Homo sapiens: one gene and its partners. The protein of the gene in region 3 purifies or fractionates together with the protein of the main gene of each other region. This does not show direct contact. Each region holds a gene or a part of one and is shown on either strand. Other genes may lie near its edges. The genes, in order: SACM1L, TMEM161B, P2RY12 and LMBR1.

Evidence for each region.
Region 1: the proteins of P2RY12 (region 3) and SACM1L purify together in Homo sapiens (affinity purification with mass spectrometry; 3 studies listed by BioGRID and IntAct, with this or other methods). This does not show direct contact.
Region 2: the proteins of P2RY12 (region 3) and TMEM161B purify together in Homo sapiens (affinity purification with mass spectrometry; 3 studies listed by BioGRID and IntAct, with this or other methods). This does not show direct contact.
Region 4: the proteins of P2RY12 (region 3) and LMBR1 purify together in Homo sapiens (affinity purification with mass spectrometry; 3 studies listed by BioGRID and IntAct, with this or other methods). This does not show direct contact.

The regions. Positions count from the first base shown.
Region 1 is NC_000003.12:45,733,822-45,741,715, forward strand, and holds part of SACM1L (phosphatidylinositol-3-phosphatase SAC1), read left to right. Parts: intron 1-1,413; coding exon 1,414-1,552; intron 1,553-3,761; coding exon 3,762-3,831; intron 3,832-3,950; coding exon 3,951-4,023; intron 4,024-4,756; coding exon 4,757-4,850; intron 4,851-4,959; coding exon 4,960-5,052; intron 5,053-5,765; coding exon 5,766-5,823; intron 5,824-7,894.
Region 2 is NC_000005.10:88,223,594-88,231,487, reverse strand, and holds part of TMEM161B (transmembrane protein 161B), read left to right. Parts: intron 1-2,959; coding exon 2,960-3,043; intron 3,044-5,621; coding exon 5,622-5,719; intron 5,720-7,894. UniProt on the Homo sapiens protein: Essential for maintaining normal cardiac rhythm in the developing heart and for neonatal survival.
Region 3 is NC_000003.12:151,374,089-151,381,982, reverse strand, and holds part of P2RY12 (P2Y purinoceptor 12), read left to right. Parts: intron 1-1,758; coding exon of another isoform or gene 1,759-1,870; intron 1,871-3,809; coding exon of another isoform or gene 3,810-3,971; intron 3,972-4,804; coding exon of another isoform or gene 4,805-4,992; intron 4,993-5,108; coding exon of another isoform or gene 5,109-5,183; intron 5,184-5,768; coding exon of another isoform or gene 5,769-5,957; intron 5,958-7,894. Other genes in the region: MED12L (mediator of RNA polymerase II transcription subunit 12-like protein), read right to left, coding at 1,759-1,870, 3,810-3,971, 4,805-4,992, 5,109-5,183, 5,769-5,957. UniProt on the Homo sapiens protein: Receptor for ADP and ATP coupled to G-proteins that inhibit the adenylyl cyclase second messenger system. Not activated by UDP and UTP. Required for normal platelet aggregation and blood coagulation.
Region 4 is NC_000007.14:156,756,836-156,764,729, reverse strand, and holds part of LMBR1 (limb region 1 protein homolog), read left to right. Parts: intron 1-934; coding exon 935-1,061; intron 1,062-1,553; coding exon 1,554-1,622; intron 1,623-2,531; coding exon 2,532-2,596; intron 2,597-7,894. UniProt on the Homo sapiens protein: Putative membrane receptor.

The DNA of each region.
Region 1 (7,894 bases), about 110 Mb from region 3:
TTACTATTTAAAGTTCTAGAGTTAGTAAGTTGCGTATGATGCTAAGGCTAGCAAACAGATAGTTTGCTTCCTGCATCCATATTCTTAACCACCACACTGTGTGTTGTCAGATTTTTGAATTCATAGAATTATCAAGGAGCTTGTTAAAGAAAACATGGGAACTGGTAACTGTGGTTGGTTGCAGTGCAGACATCTGGATGTTTAAGGGGAGGAAGGGAAACTGATTTTTCAAATAATACCCAATTGTTCTTTATAAATCTTGTACTATTTGCATGTATTACCCATTTAAGAATTTTTTTTTTTTTTTTTGGCTGGGGGCTGTGGCTCACGCCTGTAATCCCAGCACTTTGGGAAGCCAAGGCAGACGGATCACCTGAGGTCAGGAGTTCAAGACCAGCTTGGCCAACATGTCAAAACCCTATCTGTACTAAAAATACAAAAATTAGCCAGGCATGGTGGTGGGTGCCTGTAATCACAGCTACTCAGGAGGCCGAGGCAGGAGAATCACTTGAACCTGGGAGGCAGAGGTTGGAGTGAGCTGAGATCATGCCACTGTGCTTCAGTCTGGGTGACGGAGGGAGATTCCATCTCAAAAAAAAAAGAAAAAGAAAAAAAATATTTTTAAGTATTTAAAAAAAATTTTTTTTAATTTAGATACAGGATATCGCTCTGTCACCCAGGCTGGAGTGCAGTGGTGTGATCATAGTTCACTGCAACCTTTAACCCTTGAGCTCAAGTGATCCTCCCACTTTAGCCTTCTGACTACAGGTAGGCACCACCATGCCTGGCTACGTTTTTGTTCTTTTAGAGGCAGGGACTCGTTATGTTGTCCAGGCTGGTCTCGAACTTCTGAGCTCAAGTAATCCTTCCACCTCAGCCTCCCAAGTAGCTGGGATTACAGGCACGCACCACCACGCCCAGCTAAAAGTATTTTTAATGCAAAATATTCAATCCTTGCCTCAGAGATTCTGATTCAGTTGATCTCAAGGCCAGGAATCTTTTTTCACAAGCAACCCAGAGGATTCTAAAGATAGTATATGAATCATAAAGCCCTGACATCTAGGGATATAGTTGGAATAATTATGTTAGAGGAAACCCTCATCTGGCTTTGGGAAACATGATTGATTTGCACAGCAACCTTTTTAATACTCTTAACTTTACTTTTTCACATCTTTGGGGTGAGATGATCTCTAATCTTCAGCCATTTTTTGGATGGAGGGCTGTCTTGCCTCAGCCATTTAGACTTCTTTTTGGTCTAGGATAATCACATATGCCTGACCACACATTCCTGTCTGACCTTTTAATTTACAGTTTTTAATAATGTCACTGAAATGAGACCCATGTTATAAGAGTTAAGTCCTTAGTAAATCTGACCTACTTTGGTATGAGAGTGTTTATACAAATATGTTTTAGTTATTTTCTAGTGGACTCTGCTGGCCAGGTGGTGGCAAACCAGGAAGGCGTGTTCCGAAGCAATTGCATGGATTGTCTAGATAGAACCAATGTGATCCAGAGTTTGTTAGCTCGTCGTTCACTTCAGGCCCAACTTCAGGTGCGAATGCTTTTTTTTTTTTTAATTGAAAAACAACACAGCAAAAAATTAAACATCTTTAAAACCCAGTAACAAAAAATATTCACATTGCCCACACCCTAACCCAGCTCTTTTTATTTTTGTGTCTTGCCCATGGATGTCACATTTTCCATAACTAGGGTCAGTCTGTGTATGCACAGTTTTCACTTTTGCCATTTTCCCTTAGCATTTATGTAATCACAGTTTCTGGTGGTTGTATTGTTGTGCCGTAATTTACTAAGCCATTCAGATTGCTACATTTTTGGTTTATAAATAACACCGTAGAGAATATATCTGTATATGTTATTATTAACTTGAATTATTTCCTTCATGTTAATTCCTAGAAGTGGAATTACTGGGTTAAAGAGAATAAATATATTATTTTCCAAGAGCGTCATACCAGTTTACACTGACACCAATAATGAATCAGTAAATCCATTTCATTGAACTCTTCCCAGCATTTGATATTTTAATTTTTTTTTTGTTTTTCCTTGAGAAAGTGTCTGGCTCTGTTGCCCAGGCTGGAGTGCAGTGGTGCAGTCTCGGCTTGCTGCAACCTCTGCCTCCTGGGCTCAAGCCATCCTACTAACTCAGCCTCCCACAAAGCTGGGGCTACAGGCATGTGCCACCACACCTGGCTAATTTTTGTATTTTTTTTTGTAGAGACAGGATTTCACCATGTTGCCCAGGTTGGTCTCAAACCCCTGGGCTCAAGCAGTCTACCTGCCTCAGCTCCCAAAGTGCTGGGATTACAGGCTTGAGCCACTGTGTCTAGCCTCTTTTTTTTCTATTTCGTTAATACAAAAGTAGCACCTCAAGATTGTTTCTATTTATCTCTCTCTTATTACTAGCAAGGAATATTGACTCCAAAGTAAAAAGTTTCTGACACAGCTTTGCTTTACCACTAGACTATGCTGTTGAGAAAAATGGTTTTTTTCTTCTGTGTATATTTGGAATGAAAAAGATGTAGAGCCCCAATTTTTAAATCACATTGGCATTTGTTGTGAGGGGCAGACAAAATGCATACCACATGGTTTCCTGTTCAGGTAATTAGTAAGCATTCAGCTTTATTTCTGACAATTGTATGATACCGAGAAAGAAATTATGGAGGTAAAATACCCCCTTCAGAATGAATTGTTCTTGAATCTTAAAGTCACACCTGCCAGAGGAGTGCTGTCCCTGTTGGAGTAGTCTGTAGTTTGTATTGTGCTATGTCCTCGTCTGTTGGAAGGTCTTCTAAGTGTAGTTTTTAATAGAAACAATATTAGGAATGGTTTGGTTCCATGGCTGATTAACCAAAACTTACTTGACTAGGCTCTGCAATCCATATTTTACAATTTTACATGCTATATATAGTATTATGAAACCTAACCAACCTGCAGAGAGTGGGGGCAGGAGCCTCTCCAGCAGCTTTGCCTACTAGTGTAGGGGCTGTCTACTTGTGCCTCTCCAAGTCTGCCAGTGAAGGCAGAGTTCTTACCCAGCTAAAGGTCACCAAGGTGGCTCCTGTGCTGTGTCTGAGGGTGGGAATGACTCCTTCTGAGGTGGAGATGAGGTGTCATCTGAGGTAAGCAATGAAGATGGTGGTTCTCAGAAGTGATGGTCTGAGACAAGGCAGGGACTTGTCATCTGTGGTTGGTGGTCTCCAAAGGGGAGTCTATAGAGGGGATTCAGGGGGCCCAGCAACCCTGGGATATTCTATGTCTGTGTGTGTGCACTTTTGGGGAGGTAGATTAGGTGGCACTCATCAGATTCTTAAAGGTCCCTGGGACAGAGGGTAAGGCTGGGGTGACTCAGGGGTGAAGAAGTTGAGGGATGATGCATGTGAGGGGGTCTCAAGGGGTAGAGGCAGTAGAAGACTGGGGGTAAGAGGGAGGGAGGAAGTAGCGGCTGGAATCCTATAGCAGCTTTCACTCTCTCTTCTGACCCTCTCCCTGAGTATAGTCCTGCTGCTATCCCTCAAGGGAGTGCGGGGGCTGCAAGGCAAAGGTGCCCTCAGGAGAGGCTTTGCAGTCTGCCCTGGGCAGGAGAGGGCTGCTGTGAGCTGGGGCCCCCTATAGACAACAGACATTTCTGGCCTGCATCCAGCAACCAGGCACCATGAGATAAAATTTGGGGACTGCTTTTTCTTCCTAAACCATGTCTGCTAAAATCTATTACACATAAATCTGGGTGTGGTTTTTTATTCCAGAGACTAGGAGTTTTGCATGTGGGACAAAAGCTTGAAGAACAAGATGAATTTGAGAAGATTTACAAAAATGGTAGGTCATTTCTTTAATATAGACAAAGTTGGTCAGATTTTGAAATAAATTAATATTCTGGATTTAGAACTTTGTTTGTCATCTTAATAATTATCAGCTGTTTTTACTTTTTTCTACAGCCTGGGCTGACAACGCAAATGCTTGTGCCAAGCAATATGCGGGAACTGGTGCCTTGAAGACTGACTTTACCAGGCAAGCCATGCTTTTAAAATAGCATTCCACATCAGTAGTTCACAGTCCTGGTGCTTTTAAAAATCACCTGGGCAGCTTTCAGACAGCAGCAGCAACAACAGCAAGACTCCAGCATCTGGGCCTCACTTGAGACCTGTGGAGTCAGGATTTCTGGGAAGTGAGGCCCGGGTACTGGTGTGTTCTTAGCCACCCTGGGAGATTCTGATGCTTGGGGAGGGTTGAGAGCCACCGCTCCACAGTGCTCCTCAGACCTTACCGTGTACCTGAAGCACCAGTCTTGAGATGTGCTCTAAAAAGCACCCAGGTGATGCTGATGCTGCTTTCAAAGACTGCACTGAGTAATGAGGACATTAATGAGAACATTTTGAATGTATTATGCATGCAGTGGCTCTTTTTCTGCTATGTGGGTTCCCTGGGAGCAGAATAAGATTTCTAGTCTGTTTGCTTTGCTGTGTCCTACCACTTAACCTGGGCTATGTATTTCTCTTCATATTTCTTGTCTTTGCAACTGGAATTAGTGTGTTTCTTTGTGCCTCCTTTGGTAATATTTTAGAAAGAAAATAGGTATTTCTTGGACCTACAAGTGATTTCTTTTGTGAAGTATCTGTATTTTCAGGGATAGTTTTTAAAATCTGTCACTCACTTATTTCTATACCTTATGCTTATTGGCCATAAAACAGTGTGAGAATTCAGTGTACAAACCTGTAACTTAAAATTTAACCTCTTTAACCAGAACTGGAAAGAGAACTCATTTGGGACTTATAATGGATGGCTGGAACTCAATGATACGATATTATAAGAACAACTTTTCCGATGGATTTAGACAAGTAAGTTTGTATTTGATGCTTTCCTGGCATTACGTGGTTGTATCTTTGCATTGTTCATCACTAATGTTATCTCACACTGAGTTTACGAATTTCTTCCTTTCTGTTCTAGGATTCCATAGACTTATTTCTTGGAAACTATTCAGTGGATGAATTAGAATCTCATAGTCCTTTAAGTGTTCCAAGGGACTGGAAATTCCTGGCTGTAAGAAACCATTTTGTATTTTTCAAGTTTTTAAAAGCATTGTGTCTGAAGGTATAGATGGTTTCAGTCTCAATTTAAAACGTTATATGTGGTTTTATATTTCATTACATGAAATATAAATACTTAAGTTTTCCAAAGAGGTCAGGCTGAGGAGTACAGTAACTGTGGAGCATTTGTTTTCTTTTCCTCAGACTCTCACACATCCTTTTCATGTGAAGTAACATAAGCAAAGGGAATGTGGAAGCTTTCTCATTTCAGGAAAACTTCAATTCTCTTACATTGAGGGAATTGCCAGAGACAAACGTGTTACATGGAAGGCAAAGTTTATTTTTGATGCTTCTCTCCTTTTTGACTCCTCTGTTCACCAGACCCTGCAAGAGCCGCTCTGGATTTTCTTTCCAGTGTGTCAAGTGCTCTGGAATGGAAGGGAGGCCTAGTGTTCTAGGTCCTCATCTGGGCATCCTCCTTCCATTTAGCACCCTTTGGCTTGGAGCAAAAGCATGCTTCTTCCGATCTTACCACATCCCCCATCTAAAGTCTAGGGCAGTTGTGATTGAACCCATAAATAATAATGTTTTGTTGACAAAAGATATTAGCTGTGTATTAGCTGACAGATGAGTTTTATTCTTTTCCCAAGCAATGCATGCACAACTGATTTTGCTGCCATTGATTAGCATTCTTAAATGATGATCTCTTTCTATTGTCTTTTCCAGTTGCCTATTATCATGGTTGTTGCCTTTTCAATGTGCATTATCTGTTTGCTTATGGCTGGTAAGTCTGCTCCACACATTTGTTTCTTAGTTAGAATGTTGACCTTTCTTTTACAACATCTTAAGTTTTTGAGTTCACCGAACACTTGATGTTTCCCTATTAAATTTAATGGGTAAAGTGGATGTGACATTAGATTGTCATTAGATGTGACAGGAAGAAAAATAACATACCTAGTAGTTTGATGGTTGTCGTTTTTTTTAACCTCAGATTTTAAAAACATGTTTTTCTTATTACTGTAAACCAATGAGTGTCTGAGACAGGTCTCAGTCAGTTTAGAGGCTTAATTTGCCAAGGTTGAGGACCTGCCCAGGAAAAAGAGACACAAGATACAGTAGGATCAGTATCTTGTGCTTTTTCCAAAGAGGGTTTTAAGGACTTCAGTATTAAATGGGGAAAGAGTGTACAGGAGAGGAAGGAGGAATGGAAACAAAAGGGGAGGGTAGGTAGTAAGATAAGTGGTCACATTCTTGTGAGGCTTTGATTAGCACTCACTGAATCCATGTTACATGTGAAAGGACGGGGTAGAGGAACAGTCAATTATGCATTCATCTCCTGCTCAGTAAATCTGCATTTTATGTAAGACAAAGTAAACATAGAGTAGATAAAGAAGTCAGATCTGCATTTGTTTTGGGGTGGGCGGAGGGATGATTTTCTAGTCTTGTCTTTGTCCCATACCTGTGAAAATAAACTGTTAATTTACATTGTCAGGGTGAGGGAGATTCAACAGGACTGTCTTTTAGGGTAAAGATTTTGGGGCCCACAAGGAATTTGCTTGTGACAGTTTGTGAGGGTGGCCATCTGTGAGGATATGTGGCCCACTATCTTTGCAGCTGTCTACTTAGGAACAAAAGGAGGGTAGTTTTGTGAGACTCAGTTCCCAAGTTTAACTTTTTCCTTTGGCATAGTAAATTTGGAGTCCTGAGATTTTATTTTCCTTTCACATTACCAAAGTAATACATAGTAATTATAGAAAGCACACGTAGGCAGAAAAGGAGAAAATATTATTTATCATCATACCTTTGAGAGAGAAGCTAACCACTCTTAACATTTTGATGTTTTAATCTTTATAAGTGTCTGTGATTTTTTTTCAAAAGTGAGATACGTATTTTCATTATCTGCTTTTTTTCACTGAGCAGTATGTTTTCCCATGTTCTTAATTGCTAATGGCTGCAAAGTATTCCATTTATGGATGTATAGTTTAACCAACTCAAATAAATGTTAATGGATTAAGATATTACTTATCATTACATTTTAAAGGTTGAGAGTAAAATTGCCTGAGAACCTGAGGAGACAAGGTCTTTACTGGTTTTCTTTTTTCTCTTAATATTTTGCTATGTTACTGAGTTAATAAAGCATTTAAGATTAAAGTGAGAAGAATGTATTCTTTATTCTCCTTTGAGTAATGTCCTGTAATTTGGAGGTTTGAGTCTGAGACTTGGTGTATTGGACGTTGGAGATGCAATCCTAGTCACTCTGAAAGAAGAGGCACCTTCCAGCCTTCATCCTCTATCCTGAATTCGTTGAGCCAACCTCTCTCTGCCTGTCTGAATTCCACCATCCTCAGGGCACCATTCATATGCTCCCCTCTCACAGAGTGTCTCTCCCACACAGAAGTCTTCACCTTCTGTCTGGATTTCCACAGCACTCCTGGTCCTCTCTCCCAGCACTTTCCTCTTTTAACCTCATTAATACATAGGGAGTTATTTTTCAGAGGTGGTATACCTCTTTGGTGTACCTGACATACCCAGTGTGTATTTCTTTTTGGATGGTAATGATTTGCATACTTGTTTGTTTTTTTCACTGGATCAGCAACTTTTTGAAGGTAAAGACTGTGTCTTACTCATTGTTTTATCTCCTTTGTCCAGGATATAGTGAGCCCTCAGTAAATGTTTGCTGAATTAAGGACTCACTCCACCACCACCACTAATTCTGTCACCTTTTTGATAGGGAGGCTCAGTTACCTGTTCATCTCTGTATTCCCCTCAGTGCTCAGCCCTGTAGACAGTCGTGACATAGTTTTAACTAAATGCTGAAATGTTGAGTAGGGGGAAAGAAAGAGCCATCTTATTAT
Region 2 (7,894 bases), on a different chromosome or scaffold from region 3:
AAGAATCTTTCACTTAGGGTAACATTCCATTTTAATCCAACTTATCTGAAACCAACTGAGTATACTGCACTTGTATTCTGACAGTAATTACCTGGAGTTAGTACAGACCCCACAGGTTAAAGGCGAAGTTCTCCGTAAGATTGTCACCACTTCAGATACCAGTTTCAAGTTTTCAGAGTACCCAGGCCACCTGCACTTCTCACTTATTAATAGGCTACAAATTTGAGGATTCCCATGATCCCCTCAGATCCAGTAATCTGCTAGAATGATTCATAGTACTTAGGAAACTGCTTTATCTATTATTACAGTATTATTTAAAGAAAGCGCATAGGGTAAGTTCTGGGAAAGAGCAGAGTTTCCATGCCCTTTCACTCTGAAGTCAGGATTTCACCCTCTGGGCACATCAATGTGTTAACCAACAGGAATTTTCTCTGAGCTTTGAAGTCCAGAGTTTTTTTGAGTTTCATTATATAGGGACAATTTTAAGTCATTGATACGAAATTGATTTCAATGATCCAACTTAATTTCCAGGCCCCTCCCATCACTGGAGGTCAAGTTCCTGAAAGTCCTGACCCTCTAATCATGTGCTTGGTGTTTCTGATAATCAGCTCCATCCTGCAGCTATCTGGGGCCCACCTTGACCTACCTCATTAGCATAACAAAGATACTTCTACACTCTTGTTTTTATAAGGACTTTTAAAACTCTGTGCCAAGAACTGGGGACAAAGAGCAGATATATTTTTTATTATACCACAAGAAGACTGCTTGTAAACAATAGGAGATAAGAGTTTGCCAAGTAGGGGCATAGGTGTTCACAAGGAGAGAAGAATATATGCAAAAAGCACCAAGGGATGAAAGAATTTGTGAGGAAGAAAATGTCACTTAGTCAAGCCAGAAAGTGTCACCTTCAAATGGGAATGGTTGAAGGTGAATCTGGAGAAGTAGGCATTGGTCAGATCATGAAAGGCTGTAGAAGCAAGAGATAATGCATGACCCCCATACACATGTGGGCCTTGAAATATGTGTTTTAATGGGAATTTTCAAGTATACAAGGAGTAGATAGAATTATGAATTCCTGTGTACTCATCACAATTAATAGCTGATGGCCAAACTTGTTTCATCTGTACTTCCCCCAGCGTACATTTCAGTATATATATCAAAAATAATGAGATTTTTAAAAATTACCACAATCTCATTATCATACCTAAAATTTTTTAATGTAATCAAATATTCAGTGGGTACTCAGATTGCCAGTTCTACAGTTGTTGCAGTTTTTTTGTTTGTTTGTTTTGTTTTGTTTTTGAGATAGGGTCTTACTTTGTTGCCCAGAGTGGAATGCAGGGGCACAATGATGGCTCATTACAGCCTTGACTTCTCAGGCTCAAGCAGTCCTCCCACCTCACCCTCTCCCCCGACCACAGGTGCATGCCACCAGACCTGGCTAGTTTTTTAATTTTTTGTAGAGATACGGTCTCACTGTGTTGCCCAGGTTGGTCTCAAACTCCTGGCTTCAGACAATCCTGCAGCCTTCTAAAGTTCTGGGATTACTGGTATGAGCCGCCATACCTGGCCTGCCGTGTTTTTAAAACAGCAAATCAAAGAGACTGTGCACCATGGCTAATGCTTATAATCCCAGCATTTTGGAAAGCTGAGGAGGGAGGATCCTTTGAAGCCAGGAGTTCGAGACTACCCTGGACAACCAAGTGAGCCCCTGTCTCTATTTTGAGGACGGGGGGAACAGCAATTGGGAAATTTCAAATTTAAAAAATCTAGATTTTTGTAATTGAAGAATTGGGGGGTCTAGCATACTAGATATGCATTTTTTCCTTTGTAATAATAGGGCCTTTGTCAAAGTTTTTGCCTAGCTGCCTTATTCATTGCTTTTCCCTGTGAGGAGCCTTGGAAATGATTTAAACAGGCATGGGTCTTGATAAGATTTGTATTACGGAAAAATAAGTAAAGGTGGTCCACCTTTCTGTAAGATAAAAAAAAAAAAAACCAATAACTAGAGGTAAGCTCAGATGGATTTGATGAGTAATGTGTCCACAGGAAGGCAGGGAGGATACCAGTGAGAGAATTTTGCAGTAGTCAGATGTTCAGAGGAAGATACACTGAACTAAGGTCTGAACTAAGGTCTCTGCAGTAGGGCAGAGTTTAGAATTTTAAGAGTTGAGAAACAGAATTAATAATAGCATGTGGAGAGGGCACATTGAAAATAAGATATGAATATCAAATTTAAGTGATTTGTAGATAGTTGGGATGACTAGGCAAGCCATGAAATTCAGGATGAGCCACTTGGTGCTTGGGAGGGAATAATTGATTAATTTGGATCGTGAGTATTTCTTCACTTCAGATTAAAGTATTTTGACTGTGGTAGAGAGGGATACAACCAGTTGTTGGATCCTTACCTGAGGAAGGTTAGATATAGCTAAAAGTGAAGTGTTTTTTAATACAATGATTTTCTGTAATTATTCTACACACAAAGTTTGAGAATTCTCGAACTAAATTAAAAAAGGGAAAGAAAGGAAAGACTACCTGTAAATGTGAGAATTCATTCAAACACCTCTCTTTTTAAGATAACTCTCAATTCCTTCAAATGAGGGATTAGTAGAGAATTAATGTGCTCCTGCCCACTTGGCTACAGACTTCACTTTATTTACTTTTAATAATAAGCCTGTATAATCTTAATATGTATTAATACATTGTCATTTGTAAGAAATATACATACAAATGGCATTGTAGGACCTGGCATCTAGTAAGTGGTTGGTTAAGTGTCTGCTGGATGTTTATCTAAACCCTTTTAAAGTTTAAGAGTTAGTATTTGTTTCAGATTACAGTTTTCACCTGATATTTCTCGACAGTGTCTTCACAAATATGAAACTTAATAAATATTTATAGGATGAAGAATAATTCTGGTGATTTTAAGCGCTTTATTTAAAAGAATTCTTTTTTTGCTTAGTTTGAGGTGGTATCAACATCCTACAGAAGAAGAATTAAGAATTCTTGCAGGGAAACAACAAAAAGGGAAAACCAAAAAAGATAGGTAAGTTTTATTGAGCTTGTAAAGTAATAAATATTTAACACAATTTATATAAATACATTTTTATGCTTTGATTAAAGAAACATGTACCAATTATGTTGTAAGTAGTTGATAAATTTGAGATCAAAACCCATGAAAATCTAATCTGTAGTAATATATACACACAAAATAGTGATTATTTTACTCAAGAACTTTATTCTTTGTTTAAATCATGAAAACAATATAGCCATCATACTAAAGAAAATGTAATTGGGGGTTGACTGGGGAGAGACTTATAACCCATATCTTTATCCTACAACTAATTAAAGACGTCAGTTGGTTTGGGTTATTTTCCAGTTTTTGCTGCTACTGTGTATTGTGGCATTGGGGAAATTAACCTGCTCTTGGCCTCAGTTTCCTCATTTTATAATTAAAAGGGAGGGACAATATAACTGTGTAGGTCCCATCAGCTCCTGAATGTTCTTTTCATGTTTAAAGTTTATGAAGAGAACTACCTACTAATTGACCTCACAGAACAGACCATAGAAGCCTCATCTGTGACTTGGACAGAGTAAACAAAACAATGTTTTGAATAATCCTTCCAGCTTTAAGATTTTATATCTCTATTTAAATAGAATTCTTAGGGAAAGTGTATGTTAATTACCTCTCTGAATGGACCGTAGTTTTCTCAACTGGGGATCTAGGAGGACTTCTTAGGTCCCCTGTGACTCTGAAATGATTGATTGACAACAAATTATAACCATATTTCTCATGTATATCATAAAAATGCTAACCTAGCCTAATACATTTATAGAAGCTAAAAAATGATTAAACATTAATGATTATTTGGCATCAAATTGGAAATTTGAAAAGACTGTCTTTTTTGATCTTACTACCATCCTTTTTCACTTATCATTACAAATATACCTGGAAGCTCATTGGACTATTAATAGTAAACCTTCCTTCTTTTTATTCCAGTAGTTAAGTTCTTTAATAAAATAGTCCTGCCTAACATTATAGTTTCCAGAGCACTTTTATACACAGTTCTACTTAATCCACAAAACAACCGTGTTAGCTAATAATTTAATTTACACTTTACTAATGAGAAGCTAGGATCAGAGATGTTAAATGAGTTGCCCAAATTTACATAACTAGTAAGGTTACGTACTGGTAACCAGGATTTGAATCTAGGTTAGTTTTTAGTTTCTGTTTCTTTTTAACTATTCCCCTTCCACCCATTTATAGCTACTATGTTCAACATTTGTAAAATTTAGTTATGTAGAAAGAGTCTCACTCTGTCACTCAGGCCGAAGTGCAGTGGCACAATTCTGGCTCACTGTGGCTTCAACCTCCTTAGGCTCAAATGATCTTCCCACCTCAGCCTCACGAGTAGCTGAGACCAGATGCATGCAACACCATGCCCAGATGATCTTCCCACCTCAGCCTCCTGAGTAGCTGGGACCAGATGCATGCAACACCATACCCAGCTAGTTTTTAAAAAAAAAAATTTGTAGAGACAGGGTCTCCCGGTGTTACCCAGGCTGGTCTCTCCTGAGATTAAGCAATCCTCCTGCCTCGATCTTCCTGGCCTCTCAAAGTGTTGGAATTACAGGTGCGAGCCATTGCACCTGGCCTGAATCCTTATTATAATGCCTTGTAATGAATAATTCTGTTCTGCAGTAATTTTTAATAGGTTGAACATGCCTTATAGTTACAAAAAGATACATTAACATTGCTGCCTTGTTCCTAGTAACAAGAATTATTGTTTGGTTTATTAACATGAAATTATTTTTTACTGAGGCTTTCCAGTTTTTTATTCAAGGATAAATGCAAAGTTGTTTTTCAGTATTGAAATTAATATTATTAAAACTTAGTTGAAGCTGGCCATGGGGGTGTGTACCTGTAGTCCCAGCTACTCAGAGGCTGAAGCAGGAAAATTGTTTGAGCCCAGGAATTTGAGTCCAGCCTGGGCAACTGTGTGTCTAAAGAAATACATAAAGTAATAAATTGAAACCTTAGTTTATTGCTTTCTATATGTTTGTCTTTAAAAATTAAATTTGGGAATCATACAGATACACCGGAAGAATTTGTTTTCCTTCATCTGTGATTTTTAGTAAAAACTATTCCAAGTTAGTCTTTCATGTTTCTGAATTTCTCATACACGTAAATCTTTCTTCAACTCTGACTTGCATATGGTTCCGGGTCTGTTTATATGTATGTGTGTGTGTGTGTTTATACACGTCACTTCAAGGAGAAGTGCACTTTGTCTTCATTTGCATTTACTCTTGTGCCTAAAGAGAAAAGAGAGTAGGAGAAATGGGTGTGAAATGCTAAGCTAGAAAAAAAAAGATTTTGTTGCAGTAACTAATTTAGGTAATTATTTCCCTGGTAATCTGTATATTCACATGATAATTTACATTCAGATTTTATAGTACCCCTTTAAAAACTACCTTTGAGTACTTTACCTCCTTATTGATGAAATATTAGAAATTCTGCCTTTTCACTGTGAAATTTAAAACTTCATCTGTAATTAGTTTGAAACAAGCACTTGGATAACAGTGTAGGTAACTTGTTTTTTGTGTCACTTGTCTGATTTTTATAGGAAATATAATGGTCACATTGAAAGTAAGCCATTAACCATTCCAAAGGATATTGACCTTCATCTAGAAACAAAGTCAGTTACAGAAGTGGATACTTTAGGTAAGGGAAATCTTGATAAAATGTTCTATAAATCTCAGTTTTATATTATAGTAGTGAAAGTACTTTCATTTTAATCATTAAGTCCATTATAGAGAATATGGAATCTTTCTAAGAACTTAGAAGCTCAAATGACTTCATTTGAATTAAATTTATTTTTTTGTTCACCTAACTTGTATTATTTTTCCTATTTTCGGAAGAGGCTAACTTACACAAATTTATTACACAGTTTCTGTTTATTAGATTGAGGTCACAGTCAATTTTTATTATCTAGAATTCTAGACTTCCTTTTACTGTTTATTTCAGTCTGCCCTTTTCTAATGTGGCTTGCAAAACTGCATTTGAAATGTCCGGCCTTGAGCAGCCCAGGGGTTGGGGTGCCTACTTTTATGCAGTTGAAAAATCGAGTATGACGTATGACTTTTTACCCCCCATAACCTAACTACTAATAGCCTACTGCTAACCAGAAGACTTACCAATAACATAAAAAATCAACACATATTTTGGCTGGGCGCGGTGGCTCACGCCTGTAATCCCAGCACTTTGGGAGGCCAAGGCGGGCGGATCATGAGGTCAGGAGATCGAGACCATCCTGGCTAATGTGGTGAAACCCCGTCTCTACTAAAAATACAAAAAATTAGCCAGGCGTGGTGGCAGGCGCCTGTAGTCCCAGCTACTCAGGGAGCTGAGGCAGGAGAATGACGTGAACCCGGGAGGCGGAGGTTGCAGTGAGCCGAGATCGCACCACCGCACTCCAGCCTGGGCGACAGAGCGAGACTCCGTCTCAAAAAAAAAAAAAAAAAAAACAAAAACATATTTTGTGTGTTATGTGTATTATATACTGTGTTATAACAATAAAGTAAGCTAGAGAAAAGAAAATGTTATTAAGAAAATCACAAGGGAGAAAAAATATATTTCCTGTTAAGTGGAAGTGGATCATCATAAAAGTCTTCAACACTGTGATACTCACTTTCAGTAGGCTGAGGAGGAGAAGGAAGAAGAGGGGTTGGTCTTGCTGGTCAGGGGTGGCAGAGGTGGAAGAGAATCTGCATATAAGTAGACACGCACAGTTCAAACTGTATTGTTCAAGGATCAACTGCATTTCTATTGAATTACCCATATTTAGAGTAATTCAATTTTATTCTCACATATAGTAGAAAGGAAAATGGTTTTAGAATACTGAACTGGATTACAAATCAGAAAAATTTACTTATTCAGGATTTACTTTCATCCATTTATTTCCAAATAGGTCATTTAGTTTTCCTCCTATATATTATAGAAATGTAGTATCTCAATTTTTGTAATTATATAATGACAATGATTCTAGTTTAAAATAATATTAATATGAAATTATTTGAATCCTAGAAGGGAAAGGCATCTAAGTTGATAACAATTTAAAACACTGGTTTTTAAACTTGGGGATATATCAAAACCACTTGATGAGTTCTTTGAAATAGATTCCCTACTCCTATCCTTGAAGATTCAGTAAATCTAGAGTAGGTTTTAGGAATTTGTATTTTTAAAAGTGCTCCAAGTGATTTTGATTTTTGACTAGGTTTGAGAACCACTGGTTTATGTGATAAATGAAATGATGCGTGTTTTTAAAAAATAATTTTGATAATGTCATATAAGGTGTCATTATGTAATTTGACCCTTCTTGGGTTAAATCATACCACCATCAAAAAATCTTAAGAGGTCCAGCATCTCAAATAGGATTATTTTGTGATACAAAGTGGCTTCGAAATACGTGAAAGTTTATTATTACATCTGTAAAGGTTGTATGTATATGTAAAGCATGTCCTAGAACTAAAAAATATCAGTGAAGAACAATATAAATCACTTGTCTAATATGATTTAGACTGTTTTTTTTTTTTATTTTTTTTGAGATGGAGTCTCGCTCTGTCACCCAGGCTGGAGTGCAGTGGTGCTATCTTGGCTCACTGCAAGCTCCACCTCCCAGGTTCACGCCATTCTCCTGCCTCAGCCTCCTGAGTAGCTAGGACTACAGGCGCCTGCCACCACGCCTGGCTAATTTTTTTGTATTTTTTAGTGGAGACGGGGTTTCACCGTGTTAGCCAGGATGGTCTCAATCTCCTGACCTCGTGATCTGCCCGCCTCGGCCTCCCAAAGTGCTGAGATTACAGGCATGAGCCACTGCACCTGGCCCATTTAGACTTT
Region 3 (7,894 bases):
AAAACAAAAAACCACTAACAAAAACCCTATCATGCTCTGAAATATGGTCATTAATGAGAGTCATCTTAAAAGAGTTCAAATGAGTCACATGCAGAAGTACTCCATCCCAACAGATGACCTGTAAGTACCCTGCAAGGTGAGAGGAAAGCACTTCCCAAATCTCATCAGAAGAAATGAACCCCTCCCTAAGGCTGGCTTAAGGGGGCAAGGTAGTTAACTAAACAACAAGCTCTCATGGAGCTCAAATAATAGTAGTGGGACAAATAAAACTAAGTGTAACAAGTGGTTTGAGGCATGGCAATGGCATACAGAATGGCTGTGGTCCTATTTTTAGAGGTGATCAAAGGCCTCCCGAAGGAGGTAACATCTTAACAGAGAACTGAATGAAGGGAGCAGGCCATGCTAATCTCTGGAAGGGAATCTTTCCACCTAAAGGGAAGAAAAGATGCACAGGCACTGAAATGAGAATTTGCTCAGCAAGTTCAAGAACAGTAACATGGCCAGTGCAACAACCATGGAGGAAAGAGGGCCATGACTGGTAGGAGACAAGGTAGGAGAGAGAGCCAGTGTCAAATCATGTCTGGCCTTATCAGCCCGAATTTTTTATACTAGGTATACTGAGGTAATATGTGACTTCCATTTAAAAAGGTTCACTATGATTGCTATATCTAGATCTCTCCTACCCAAAAGGTGAGAAATGACAAGAGGATCAAATAAGATTAAGTGTCCTTGTCCATGTCCATCTAGTACCATTCGAGGGAAAGACATGGTGTCATAGAAACACAGTGCCACAAGAAGGGGTCAATTAGGCTGTGTATCAGGATAAAACACCTCATAAGACCAATCTATCCACTTTGCTTAATTCCATGCTCTCCAATTTCTGTTGTGAATGCTCAGTTTCCTTATAGTACATAGATGCAAGAGCCTCAAACAGTGACCAGGAGAACTGTGTTTGGTGAAAAGGCAATGTCCAAATTATTTCTAAATAAACCAACATGCCTTCTGATTTATTTCTTGTGTACTTGGTTGGCATCAATACAACTGAGTTTCTGAACCTACAGATTTCAAGCTGAAAGCGTGCCTGATAATGTGGCATCCAAGCTTGAGGAGCTGGACTCACTGCCATGCCTACTGCAGCATAGATTGCTCCAGGTCCTCTCCTATGAGGCAGAGTTAGGAGACGGGCAGATAGTTCAAAGTTATATGCAATATATAAAATTTTACTTTTATAGGCAGTACACATTTATTGTATATATCTCATTAATATAAAGTTGTTAATCTTGTGGTGTCTACAATGCCAGGTAGAAGAATAAGGCATGGATTGTTTCTCAGCGTCTACTCAAAACATTTTGTAACCTTACTAGTTGTTTTTTTTTTTTTTTTTTGAGACAGAGTTTCACTATTGTTTCCCAGGCTGGTGTGCAATGGCGCGATCTCAGCTCACTGCAGCCTCTGCCTCCCAGGTTCAAGCAATTCTCCTGCCTTGGCCTCCCGAGTAGCTGGGATCATAGGCGCACACCATCATGCCCGGCTAATTTTTGTATTTTTAGTACAGACGGGGTTTCACCATGTTGGCCAGGCTGGTCTCGAACTCCTGGCCTCAGGTGATCCACCAGCCTCCGCCTCCCAAAGTGCTGGGATTACAGGCATGAGCCACCACACCTGGCCCTTATTAATTTAATCTCAGTATTTGAAAGGCAAATAAATGAATGCCGTTAGAAAGATATTTGCCTGTCTTAATATTATACTATACTTTACCTGGTTAACTTGATTCTGGAGAGATGTTAGGAGGCCTTCCCTTTGTTCATCTTGTCCCTTAAGGCAGGTAAGTACCAGTGAGAGGAAGGGTTGTTGACTCAAAAGAGACATACTACAAAGGAAGTAATAATAACAACAGATCTAGTTAGAAATAATGCATTACTTCCTCTGGCAACATTCATTTCTTTGCCTCACTATTAGATAAATAAGAGAGGTGGTAAATAGCCAAAGACTGCTTGAAAATTTAAATCATACCTCTACTTATAAAATTAAAAGCCACTGTAATGCTTCTAAATCACTTCGTATGCTCTAATTGCCCTCGAAGCCATTCTCAAACTAGCATCAAACCATACTGCATGTGAGCATGCCGGGCAGTGAGGGTAGAAGACAGTGAATTCATCTTCTACATCAATATGCAGAATTTAAAAATGTACATCAGAAAGAATATCAATTTATACACAGGATAAAATTAAAAATTTTTAAAGTTCTCATATAAAACTCTTGTTTTAGAGTCTGGGAAAACAGGCCTATATATATGTCTGTTGAGCTTGTTTTGGGGTTTGATTTTGTTTTTCAGCACATTTCCCAAGACCAAAAAGCAGGGTGTTAGTAGAGCTAATTCATCAGCCAGGGCTGAGGACTCCAAAAACAGTGTACTTGCTGGCGACCCCTAGTGTGCAGCTCCAACACAGCCCACAGGCTCCAACATAGCCCGCAGCATCCACTGGTAAAGAGGTGTCAAGGCATTTGGTTAAAAATTCTGTTTTAAATTGGCATTTTAACAAAATGTCTTCAATTAGAGAATAATCAACAAATCATATTGACAAACAAAGCGCCATGTTGGAAAGACAAATTTCTTAAAATGAGACCTAGGCCAAAATATTTCAATCAGCATTATTCTCCATGGGCAGAATAAAGAGCCCCTGATGTGGGAAGAGCGATCTTTCAAGTCTCTTCAATACCATCTGTCCTGCCTATGGGAAGTTAGGCAATGCACATACACTCACCTATCAGCAAATATGATTTGAAAATTAGAATTATGCTTCCTTGTTGGTTAATTAATCCTGGCCAACATGGTAAAACAACCAGATGTAAAACAAATACAGTACATACAATGCTGGGTCTCTACCAAAATGTACTGTAGTTAAGAGCACAAGCTCAGAAGCCAGACCTCCTGGATTTAAACCCAGGCTTTATGTCCTTCACTGTGTGTCCTGGAGCAACTCATGTAACCTTTAAGTGTCTGTTTCAACATGATATAAAGAAGATAATGAGAGTACCTACCACATGATTGCTATAAGAATTTTAAAAGCTCATGTACATAATGAGTTTTAGAGAGGAGTTGCCATTCTGTAAGCAGTCAATAAATGGTGGCTACTATAGTATTATTCATTAGTGGACAAGAAATCTATGTGCTTAAAATATTTTTTTAATGGAAGAAATTATCAATTTTTTTCCTTTACTCCTAGGTTTCTTGGCATTTTCACATTAGGGTGAGGTTTCTTTCTTTCTCAGTAACACGGTTTTCAAATATAATTACTTGAAACCTTTTCTTGGGCATAAAATAAATTAAGAAAACATTAGTTGTGGTGGCCGAGGAGTCTTAATGTCTAGTCTAGAACAGGAGCCCTAAATGTTAAAAATATGAGCAACTAGTTCAGACACCAACATGCCAGAATTATACATTATATTTATTTTAAACATAAATATCTAAATAATAAAAAAATAGAAATAATTAAAAATAAAATACAGGGATCAGGTAGCTATCCAGATCTGATTCAGTTGGTCTAAAGCGGGTCTCGGAAATCACTGTTTTTAACAGTTCAGCAGTGATTTGGATATAAAGGCAGAATTGAGAACTAATGTATTAAGGATTATAACCTGAAATTTTTTAGGAATAAGACAGCCTTGCCTAATAGAATATTCCCAGTTCCATTTAAAAACTAAATTTCAGTGGACTGTGGGTACAGTGACCACACAGGTTTACAGGAAGTGAGACTTTCTCAATTATTCTTTAAACTCTCACACAGACGCCCATCTTCCAGCCACACCTTTTCTGTTTCTGTCTGTCCCTTTCCTTTTTGGAAGAAGAACCCAAGTGCTGTCCCTTCTCCAGCTCTTCCCCAGCGGCTTTCAGCACTCTTCCTTGCACAGAAGTTGGCAACCTGGCGATGAGGGGGGCCACCAACCATACACCCCTGCGTTCGGAGGAACTAAAATCAGAAACAGGTGTTACACCGGAGAAAGCATCCTTTCCCCTGCTCTCACAGTTATAACAGAAACTCCAAAGCGAAACTTTGATGTATGAGACACACAGACTGTTCTAAAATTTCCCTTTTATTTCTGTATTATCTTTCCTTTTTCCGAACACTAGACATTTGCATGAGCTTTCCACCTAAGCCTACAGAAAGCAATAAAACATGCAGTTCTGGAAGGATATTGTAACTAAACTGACTTTAATGTTTTCCGATGACCCCCTCTCTCTAATTAAAAACAATCACTTTGTCCAACAAACAATATACTTTTCTGTCACAGTTACAATATGAAATATTATATGTAAGCATACTAATAGCTAATTTTTAAGGTTTAAAATTCGCTAGTTATACTTTATACCAAAATGATGAAATACAAATCAGCCTTTCATGATTAAATAATTACTTTAAGACTTTATATGCCTACTGGTTCTAATTCTGCACAAAAATTACCAGGATATATTTGTGCAAAATAATTAATTAATAAAAATGGTGGAAAAAGCGTTTCCCATATAATGAATACTACGTAACACAGTAGACTAAGGGACACTGAAAGCATGAACCAAACCTGAGTTCACCTGCAGTTTCAAGGTGTTTAAGCCTACTCAATCAAATATTCCGAAGCTATCATTCACCCCAGCTTTACTCATTAACTTATTAATAATAATCCCTGCTTACAAGTAACTATGTTCTTCACATTCCTATGACTTAAAGAAAAATCACTGTGCTACACAAAATTTACCGTTACTTGTGAAAAATTCATGACAGTTCAATAAAACAACAGACAAAAATACCTTAGGAATGTCTTTATTCCATTCTGTCTCGTGCTACTTGTATCAGCACTTCCAATACTGTTTGGGTTGAAGAGGCTCATGCCAGAATTAGAAGAATTATTTAGGTCTGCAGACTGCTGGAATACCTCTATTGTTGCCTTTGCAATATTGTCCAGTAAGTTGTTCATTTCGGCCACAGAACCAGAGCCCTAGAGTTAGATATAAGAATACTGGCACATATGTGTATTCCTTTATCCTCAAACATCAACGTGTTTTTGCTTTTTATAAAATTTCATACAGAGATAAGCTTTCAATATAAACTCACAGGGTCCTTCAAGCACTGTTTGATCATTAGCTGGAGTTCTAACCAGGATTGCCTCAGTGTCCACTGCTCAAGATTCTGGGAAAAATGGAAAGAATTAAAACATTATGGGTATCAAATGTGTTAAAATACAGTAATTTCTTACAGTACTCCTTCTCTCAAGAAAGAGCAGAATAATCATACACAATGAAATAATTTATATGAGTCAAAAGGTTCCCAATCTTGCTGCATATATATTCAGTAGCGATACAAACCAATAAACAGAAACATTAATTATTAATTAGTTAATACTGTGCCTGACTCAGCTATGCACTGAAACTAAATAAGCATTTCTCCTTTCAAAATCTATTTAACCAATCCCAATCCAAAATGATTTCAATATTTCTTTAATAATATATTTAACATAGCCCCTCTCTGAAGCATATTTCTCATGTAAATACAATACTGATTTAAAATATCAATATTTGTTTGATGATCATATACAATTTGCAGCATGTACATCCACCCAAAAATAAAGTATGTCAATTCCACAGAAAATGTGTGGGAATAAAAATCAGAATTGAAATCACAAATTAGCAAGGACAAAAAAAGAGAGGAAGTAACTCTTTTTATTATTACGAAGAATTTATCAAATGACAGAAACACAATCTGTATACGACTGACCTGAAGAATACGCTTAATGTGCTGTCTTTGCAGATTGTCCCCCTCGGTACATTCTTTAATGCCATGAGGATAACAGATAAGCTGCAGTAATTTCTGTGCTTGCATATTTGAAAGCACAGGGTCCAATATAAGTTCTTTGTCTGTACATAATCTTTCAGGTTCTTTTAAGCAATGCTCTCCTACCCATTCCTAAAAATAATATGGCAATTAGATTGACAGGCACTGGCTTTCGGTATATATATATGCAATATGTACTAAATCCACAGTGCATAATTGAATAGAAAACTGATAGGAATTTTCCAATTTAAAAAATTACATTAAAAAGTAGGTAGAAAAATTTTAAAAAACAAAATTTTTAGCATTTTGGCTTCTAAAAAATACAAAGTAGAACTTGCTTAAAAACATTTTTTAATGGGAAAAAAGAAAAGACAATAAAGAGAATATTAGTATGTTTTTAACTGGAAAGTAAGGTCTTGCTCTAGGCACTATTTTGTGTCAGTTTTTTCTAACTTGCTATATAATGATTCTATCAGATATACGTTCTTCATAATTTTTATGGAATACATTGTACTATCTCACTGACTAGATACAACATAGTATAACAAATATTTAGAAAACGATCTTCCTTTTTGATACTATTATGAATAATGTTATCATTATAAATGAGTAGTAGTGCACATCTCTTTTTTATACAATAATTTTCTTAGGGTAATTTCATAGAAGTGCAATTGCTGGGTCCAGTGTGAGTGGGGGGCTATAGATGCATGGGGTTAATGACCCTCTGAAGAGTTTCTACCAATTTAAACTCCTATTGCCTTTTCTTTACCATTTTTTTCAAAGGCAAATTATTATACTAAATAAAGTAAGAAATCATCAACAGTAACAGAGCCCAATTTGAACCCAGATCTATTTCGGGTGAAGTCTGTTTTTTAACCACCATACCAGTGGCTCAATGCTGGTTGCCCACTAAAATTACCTGGGATCTTTATAAAATTCCATGCCCAGGGCCCACATCAGACTAATTAAGTCAAACTCAGGTGGTGGCACCCAAATATCAGTAATTTTTTAGGCATCCAAATTGTTTTAAATGCCCCAGCTGATTCCAATATGCACTCACAGTTGGGAACCAACACACAATTGCCTCTCAATACTTATATGACTATGTAGCTATCTTTTACCATAGTTATAACATGCCTGTAAAAATACAAAAACATGACCCAGTCGGTATGACACCTATAGCAAAGTACAAAATAATATATAAGGTATGTCACTTTTTTTTTATAAGAGAACTTTTAAAACAAATATATGGGAGGGAGAATAAACCAAAAAATAATAAAACTGGATCATCTGGTAAGAGGGATATGGGAGGGAGACACATCTCTGAGTATACTTTTTTGTATAGTTTCACTTTTGAAAGTAAGCTATTCTATAGCCAGAGCTGGGGACAAGAAAGGAATTTAAATAATGCAAAACCAAATGAACCTAGTTCTATTTCACATAAAGAATACACTCATAGGGATGGGAAAAGTTCAAATAATTTTTGAACACAGTATTTTAAACCCTTAGAGAAAATGGAATTGCAAACAAATCTTCAAAGCCTTTTAGGTAGGTTTGTTCTTCCTAGTGGTATGTGTGTAACATTTCTTTCTTTCTTTCTTTCTTTCTTTGAGACAGAGTCTTGCTCTCTTACCAGGGCTGGAGTGCAGTGGCGCAATCTCGGCTCACTGCAACCTCCGCCTCCCAGTTTCAAGCGATTCTCATGCCTCAGCCTCCCAAGTAGCTGGGATGACAGGCATGTGCCACCACACCTGGCTAATTTTTGTATTTTTAGTAGAGATGGGGTTTCACCATGTTGGCCAGGCTGGTCTCAAACTCCTGGCCTCAAGTGATCCACCTGCCTCAGCCTCCCAAAGTGCTGGGATTACAGGCTTGAGCCGCTGCGCCCTAGCCTAGTGTACATTTTTGATACTGTATTTTAATTAATCATTTTTTGACAAAGCGCTGGATAGCACATTTAACATGCCCGGCCATGTGTAACATTTTAAAACTATTTCAGATGTATCATAGAATTAAACAAACAAGTAAATTGACGTTTTTGGGAATCAGCATTCTTACTAGGGAAGAAG
Region 4 (7,894 bases), on a different chromosome or scaffold from region 3:
ATTGAAATAAGTGTATGTTTTGGAATTTTATAACTCATATTTTTATGTTAAATGTGGAATGAGATAACATAATTTATTGAGAAATATGGATGTATTTATAATTTTGTTGGTTGTGTTAGATAATTGTAGGTTAGTGCATTGCAGTACAAAATATCAATATGATGCTTTAACTTATAGGTGCAGATTCAATCATTGGGTGATTTTTTGGGGAGTAAAAGCGGTTTCTTTTTTTGTCTTATCCTGCAGTTTTTAAGTTTTAAAAGTCTGGCCTTTAGTTTGGTCCTGAAGTCAGAATTTGTTTTACATTTAAAACAAAGTTGTGCATAATGATTATATTATTATATTCTTGTCTCATGGATTAATGAAAATTCTATATAATGTGAAGAAAAGCATCATATAGAACTGATAAAAGCAGTATCTCTATAGTTTATAATGCTGGATTACAATGGACAGTTCTTCAGCGGCACAGTAGAGGGCTCCGGAGGCTGTGAGGAGCACCAGAGTCCATGCTAGAGAGAGCCGGCGCTCTCCAGCAGCTCGGAGCATTGTGGCGCACCAAGTTCAGTGCTCACTGAACTGTTTGGCTCTGTGCCATAATTAGCCTTCTATTCCCTTGATTAGAATCACGGATAGAAATTCATTAATCTGCTTTGTTAGTGGAAAGTGTTAGGAAAGTAATTGTTAAAAATGGCTCTGCAGATGTTTTTTATGAAGAATTTTTTTTGTGTTTTATCCAAGCTTAATAATATTTTCCATAATTTGAAAAGTCAGTCTAAACATTGTAAACCATAAGTACCTAGTGTTTTTTTCCTTTTAATAAATATAAATTTCCTCTCCTTCCAAGGGATTATTTTATGCTTTCATATAGGCAGAAACCTTATTGTTCATGAAATGAAGTAAAATACTAAAATTATATTTCTACTCTATTTTTCAGGGAATCCGAGCCCGCATTTTAGAGACTTTGGTCATGCTTCTTCTTCTTGCGTTACTCATTCTTGGGATAGTGTGGGTAGCTTCAGCACTCATTGACAACGATGCCGCAAGCATGGAATCTTTATATGGTATGGATTTCCTTGTTTTAACCAGTTTCCTTACTGGAAACTGTAGTTTGGGATATAATTACACACTCAATTTTAAAAACATTTAAATCTTTGTGTAGTTAACAAAGATGTTTGATGTTAATTTACAGAATTAAGAAATCTTTAGATATTTTTATCTAAAAATGAAGTTTTATTTATTTTATATGTGAAGAACAAGTAAGCAGCTTTTCAGATTTTTTTTTTTTGTTTTTGTTAATTGGTTTCTGTTCTTCAAATTCCGTGGAGACATTTTTTCTCCCTCCAGACAGGTTTTGCTAAAGGGTTACTTCTTGGTTTTCTATTTTAGATCTTTTTATTGTACAATTTAGAAATTATATGGCTTAATAAACTAAAATAGGCAATTACAATGTTTACATGAGGTACAGTCAGCCTCTATCTTATCGTAAGATAGACTGACTATCTTAATGTGCAGTATTTTGGATTTATTAAAATATATTTACTTTTTTTTAATAGATCTCTGGGAGTTCTATCTACCCTATTTATATTCCTGTATATCATTGATGGGATGTTTGTTACTTCTCTGTAAGTATTTTTCAGACTTGATATTAAGAGAAAAGTAGAGTTGTCCTTATTCTGGAAAATTCAGGGAAGTTTTCTGATGAGATTTCTTAACTATTTGGATTTTTTTTGAGTTCGCCTTAACTATTTTTATTCAAAATAAATTTTGATAAATGGAAACTTTGAAATAATAAGATGCTTTTATTGTTCTCTAAGGAAAGCTTCTTCTACTGGGTTGTAGAGTGAGACAGACGGACAGACACACACACACACACACACACACACTCACACTCACACACTTTCACACACTCATATACAGTCATACTTACATACACTGACACACAAACCATGTGCACACTCATACACACATGCTATAGCCTCACCCCCATACCTGTCATAATGCTAGATTCTACTTTTAAATGGAAATGGTAGAATTATGTATGATAAGTTTGTGGTTTTTTAAAAGTTTGTTTTGTTTTACTTGAAGCATCACAGCCTATCTCAGGGATAAGTAGATAAATGTAGTTTAAAGGACTTAAGACTATGGTTGTCACCTTTAGATATTCTTGTTTGTTTCTCAGTCCTATTAATACTTGAAATTTAACCTGTTCTTTGCTAATTTTTCTTTATTTTAAGCAAAAGTATTTATTATTATTCAACTGCTAGAATCTTGAATATTATTCTAAGCCTTTTTTTGTTGTCACATATCTTTCATAACTAATTACACCTATCCTGCTCACATGGCCCCTCTAGCTTCTTTATTGATGATGGTGAAGAGTTCTCTGACAAAACACTGACAATCTCAGTTGGAGAGAAGAATGTTCTTAAAATGATAATCCTTGAATTTCCCTTATTTTTACAGTCTAGTTGTTTATCTCTTTCTCCAAGCTCTATAATGTCGCTTTCTGTCTTTTGGTGATCTTATTTCTGCAGTGTGTACACCAGTTGGCCTTTCTCGTATGTTCACAGTGATGGGTCAGTTGCTAGTGAAGCCAACAGTAAGTATTTAATTATAAATCATTTTGTTTATTAAATAAATGTGTTTACATTTGATTGTCTTTGATATTGTGAGCTAGCATTTAGAAATAGAAGAAGAATATGTTTTGTATGTTTATCACTCAAATTGTTGTTTTATTAAGTTTTTTTTTTTTTTTTGAGACAGAGTCTTGCTCTGTCGCCCAGGCTGGAGTGCAGTGGTGCGATCTCGGCTCACTGCAGGCTCCGCCCCCTGGGTTCACACCTTTCTCCTGCCTCAGCCTCCCGAGTAGCTGGGACTACAGGCCCCTGCCACCTTGCCCGGCTAATTTTTTTGTATTTTTAGTAGAGACGGGGTTTCACTGTGTTAGGCAGGGTGGTCTCAATCTCCTGACCTCGTTATCTGCCCACCTCGGCCTCCCAAAGTGCTGGGATTACAGGCGTGAGCCACCGCACTTGGCCTATTAAGTTTTTTGTTTAATAGAACTTTGGTTAAATTTCCAGTCTTTGGAAACCAAATTTGGTTTTGCTTTTAAAATACTAACTATAGGTGCATAGGTAAAAATTCCTCTAGCAAATTTTAGGACAAAATTTACAAATATTTACAGGTATTTTAGGTGTCCATTGCCTAATATCAAAAAGTACCTCTATTATGTTTCAAAATTTACATGTATGCTTTAATTTACAAAATGGTTATATTTCTGAAAATTTGTCTGCATATTGTGTCTCGATTAATTGAAGCATACTTTACCTTTCATCTTAGAAACACTATATATTAGTTTTTAAATGATTTTCAGTTGATTGTAATTCTAATGATTTGTCGCTTTCTTTGGTCTCTATTTTGTCAGATATTTAATTATATAAAAACGATTTCTTAGCTGCCCCTAGGAAATCTGTCACTTATTTTCATGGATCCTCACTGCCTATGAACTCAAGAGTAAACTACTTACATGTTACAAAGCCTTTCACAGCCTGGTCCACACTCAGTTTTCCTCTAGCTGTCCCTGTGTTTACTGTCACTCTAGCTCATGAGCGAACTTGCTGTGCTCTGAATAGGCTCTATGCATTCTGTCTCCAGGACTGTCTCTTTCCCTTCAAGGCCTCTTACCTGCTCCAGCTACCTAGCAGCCTCCTACGGCCTAGCTCAAATATCAGCTCCACTGTCTACATAGCTTTGAACGTTGCCTTGCTTCTTCAAGGACAAAGAATTAAAGTCCTTTCTTTGCATTTCTCATATTCCCTTTTGTTTCTGTCTCACTAGTAATACTTATTAAATCGTTATAGTTATGTGTTTGTCTTCCTTGTCATGATTCATTTAGGGAAAATACTGAGGAAGTGTTATAGGGGCTATACTTTTAGTAAATGCTTGCTTAATTTTGAAAATCATAATATTTTTATATTTTAAAGATGAAGTTTAATTTTTTATTTTTAAAAAATGCGTAAATACATTTTACAAAAAGTATGTAAATGTTGTATACACACTTGTGTACCACACACATGCTGCCAAGTCTTGAAATTCCTTTCCCTTGTAAAGAGGTTTTGGGACATTGAATTCATTTAGTTTCTTCCTACATTTGTTGTTGTTTGTTTGTTTGTTTGGTCTTCTTTCTCCTTTTCTGCTTCCTGACCCCTAACTATAGGCAAATGTTTAAAGTTCCATCATTGGTCTAAATTTCTATTAATGCTCTGCTCCTAAACCATCTCTGCCATTTCCACATCACTTTTAAATGCCTAATTCTAATGAGGAAAAGACAATGGAAACAAATTCCAGTACATTTTAAGTGCTATAATTGAATACCCCATGGAGCTGAAAACTCAACGTATATAAAACGAAACTACTTACTTAGCTCCCTTCCCCAAGCTAATTTTTCTCCTTAACTTGTCTCTTATTAATGTTAAATATAGTGAACCCCAAGTTTTTCCTCAAAGAATCAGTATGTCAGTGTGTTCAGCTCTCTTCTTCTTCGATTCTCCATTTTAAAGTTTAACTTCCTGGTTCTCTTCTCCCCCTTGCCTCTGGTTTCAGTAAACAACTTTCCCACCAGTCCTAATCAGTATTTCACATCTGTTCGCTGGTCACCTGCTCCATCCTGACTCACCCCTGGTCACCTTCTTTGACCTGAGTCACCCCTGGTCACCTGCTTTGACCTAAGTCATCTTTAGTTACCTGTTCCTAACTGTCCTTCCTGCTAGACTAGTCACCCTGCCACTCTGGCTCATATGCCTGCTCCCTTTAAAATAGCCAGTCGGAATTAGCTTAGACTGTGTGGTCCAACCATTGTCAATAGGGGAACGACACACTAGTAGGGCCCTGTGTCAGAAATAAGAACTCCTTCCCCTCCCCTGTGCAGGTGTGCTCTCTCCATTACTCCATTTGCCAGTCGCACCCTTCTATAGAAGTAAAAATTGCCTTGCTGAGAAAATTAAATTTATGTTCGAGTGCTATTTCTTTGCAGCACCAGGGAACGAGCATTTTGCATTTCTAACATTAACAGTATCCTCAAAGTCTTGTCTTTGTTTCTTTTCTTGTTGGTAACATTCAGTAATAAAGATTATTTATTGAGTAATTGAGTGTATTATATATGCTAGCAATAAACACTATATTTTACACACATAATTTCATTTTATCCTGATGACAAACCTATAAGTTAGATAGTAGTATTCTTATTTTATGGCTAAACTAATGTCATTTCAGGAAGATTAAGTAGCTTGTACAAGATCAGAGATCTATGAGGGGGCAGAGTGTGAACCCAAGAGGCTGGTTTCATACCAGAAGCTGGTCTGCCATTCTATTTTGCTGTAAGCTCCAGAGCTGTAAAACCGATTTGTTTGCTGAGTGGACTTTACCCCTCCACTTCTGTGTTCTGCTTACAGTTTCCTCTAATTGAAATGCCTTTCTTTTGGTAATTTAAGCTGTCAGATAAGATGCTACTATGCTACTACCATCAAAAACACTGGTCGAAACTTTTGTCTCCCCATCTGGGAATAATTTTTCTTCCTTTGAACTTTTGTAATGTTTTATTTAAGCCACGGTTATGACTTTAACAAATCTTCTAATTATTTTTTAAATTCATCTGCTCTCTTCTGCTACACTAGAATATCAGCTGTTTGAGGTCAAGGACTATGTCTTACCCATATTTAAGCCCCCATTAGCCCATAGTAGTTGAGTATAGGGTTTGAAGGCACGTAACATTTCTTTGGTAACCCTGCTTCTTGGAATATAAAATGGAGATGAGAACAGTCTGTTTTTCGTAGGATTGTTGTAGAAATCAAGGAGGATGGTGCTCATAAGAACTTAACACAAATATATGTGTGTTATTTACATTGTCACTGCATTAGTCTATTATGCATTGGTATAAACCTGAGGCTGAGTAATTTATAAAGAAGAGAGGTTTATTTGGCTTATGGTTCTGCAGGCTGTACAAGAAGCATGGCACTGGGACCTGCCTCTGGCTAGTGCTTCAGGAAGTTTCCAGTCATGGCGAGAGGCAAACGAGGAGCATTTGTGTCACAGGGCAAGAGAGGGAGCAGGCGAGAGAGAGGTCCATACTCTTTTAAACAACCTGCTGTCATGTGAACAAATAGAGCAAGAACTCAGTTATTACTGTGTGGACAGCACCAAATCGGTTATTCATGAGAGATCCACCCCCATGACCCAAATACTTCCTACAGGGTCCCACCTCCAATACTGGGGATCAGATTTCAACATGAGGTTCTGAAGGGACAAATATCCAAACTACATCAGTCACTCATTCACACTAAGACATACCCGTGGTGATAAGTAATTCTTGGACAATTTGCATAAGAAAGATAAAAATCCTTTTGTATGCCTTAGACCTTATGTAAAAACTGTCAATTCTGATCCAGATAGTAGAAAGTGAAAAGAAGTGTTGATGGGAAAGGAACTTTGGATCAAGGCCCCCAAGGACCTGGTCCCAGACATGTGGGTTTTCTCTGGGATTCCTCTCCCCTAACCCACTGCATCCAGGAGATCCTCTCCGTGTACCACTCTTTCTCCTCGGGAGTAGCTCACATTCCAGCACTTGCCACTCATTTCAGCCTAAATGTTCCCTCTTTGGAGAGGGCTTGCTGGCTGGCCATTTAGGTATCTCTTCCCCTTTTCTTCCTATTCCTTTCTTCCTCATAGGATGGTCATTCTTTGTCATTATTTGTTTGTATATTTATTTGTTTATTACTGTTGATTATTATTTTAGTATTTGTTTTTTCTCACCTTCCAAGTCAGGCTTCTCAAGGATCGAGTTGGTATGTGTGCCAGTGATGAGTTCAGTGCTAGGTCATAGGGGACCGTAAAGATTTGTTGAAAGGCTGGGAATTATTGGATTGCTTCAAATAAATTTCACATCAGCTGTATAAATTGGACATCTGACAGGGATTGCATGATTTGAAAATCTGTTTTCTGAAAATACTTTAAAGTCTGAAAGGAGATGTATATATGGTTTCTGTCTTTTTGTCCATTAGCTCCTCACAATTTATTTTTTTTGCTGAGTGTGAGTAGTTTGGATGTGAGGATATGGAACACTGATATCAGCTCTAGACTTCTTTGAGATTTGCCCTACAGCTACGAAGATAATAAGGATCCTCTCAGAAGGATAGCTATGTTAACAAAACTAGAATTAAATCAATTTTAGGATTTTTAACAGTGCAGACAATATCCCATACAATTGGTAAATTATTAGTATGGTTTTTTCTTTTGAACTACTGTTGTTTGACTTGGTTTGTATGTAAACATACCACTTCTCTAGATTTTGGTCTATTGGATGATTTTGATAATACCAATCTTTAATATTCATGGAGTGTTTTTAGTACATAAAGATGATATAAATGGAAAGTGTTGCATGTTACTGATGTAGTTTATGGATTTCTTGTTTTAGACATTATGTAGGTAAATGTAAATGAGAAAACAAATGTTGGACTGGGTGTCTGTTCCTTCTATCTCTAAAATATTGGCTTGGGCCTATATTTACTGTAGTTATTTACCGTAGTTAGCTTTTTGGCTGTTTAAAATTGGTACATGTAGGCTGGGCGGGTGTGGTGGCTCACTTCTATAATCCCAGCACTTTGGGAGGCTGAGGCAGGCGGATCACCTGAGGTCAGGAGTTCAAGACCAGCTTGGTCAACACGGTGAAACCCGTCTCTACTAAAAATACAAAAATTAGCTGGGCATGGTTGTGTGTGCCTGTAGTTCCAGCTACTAGGGAGGTTGAGGTGGGAGGATCGCTTGACCCCGGGAGGCAGAGGTTGCAGTGAGCTGAGATTATCGTACCACTGCACTCCAGCCTGGGCATCAGAGTGAGACTGTC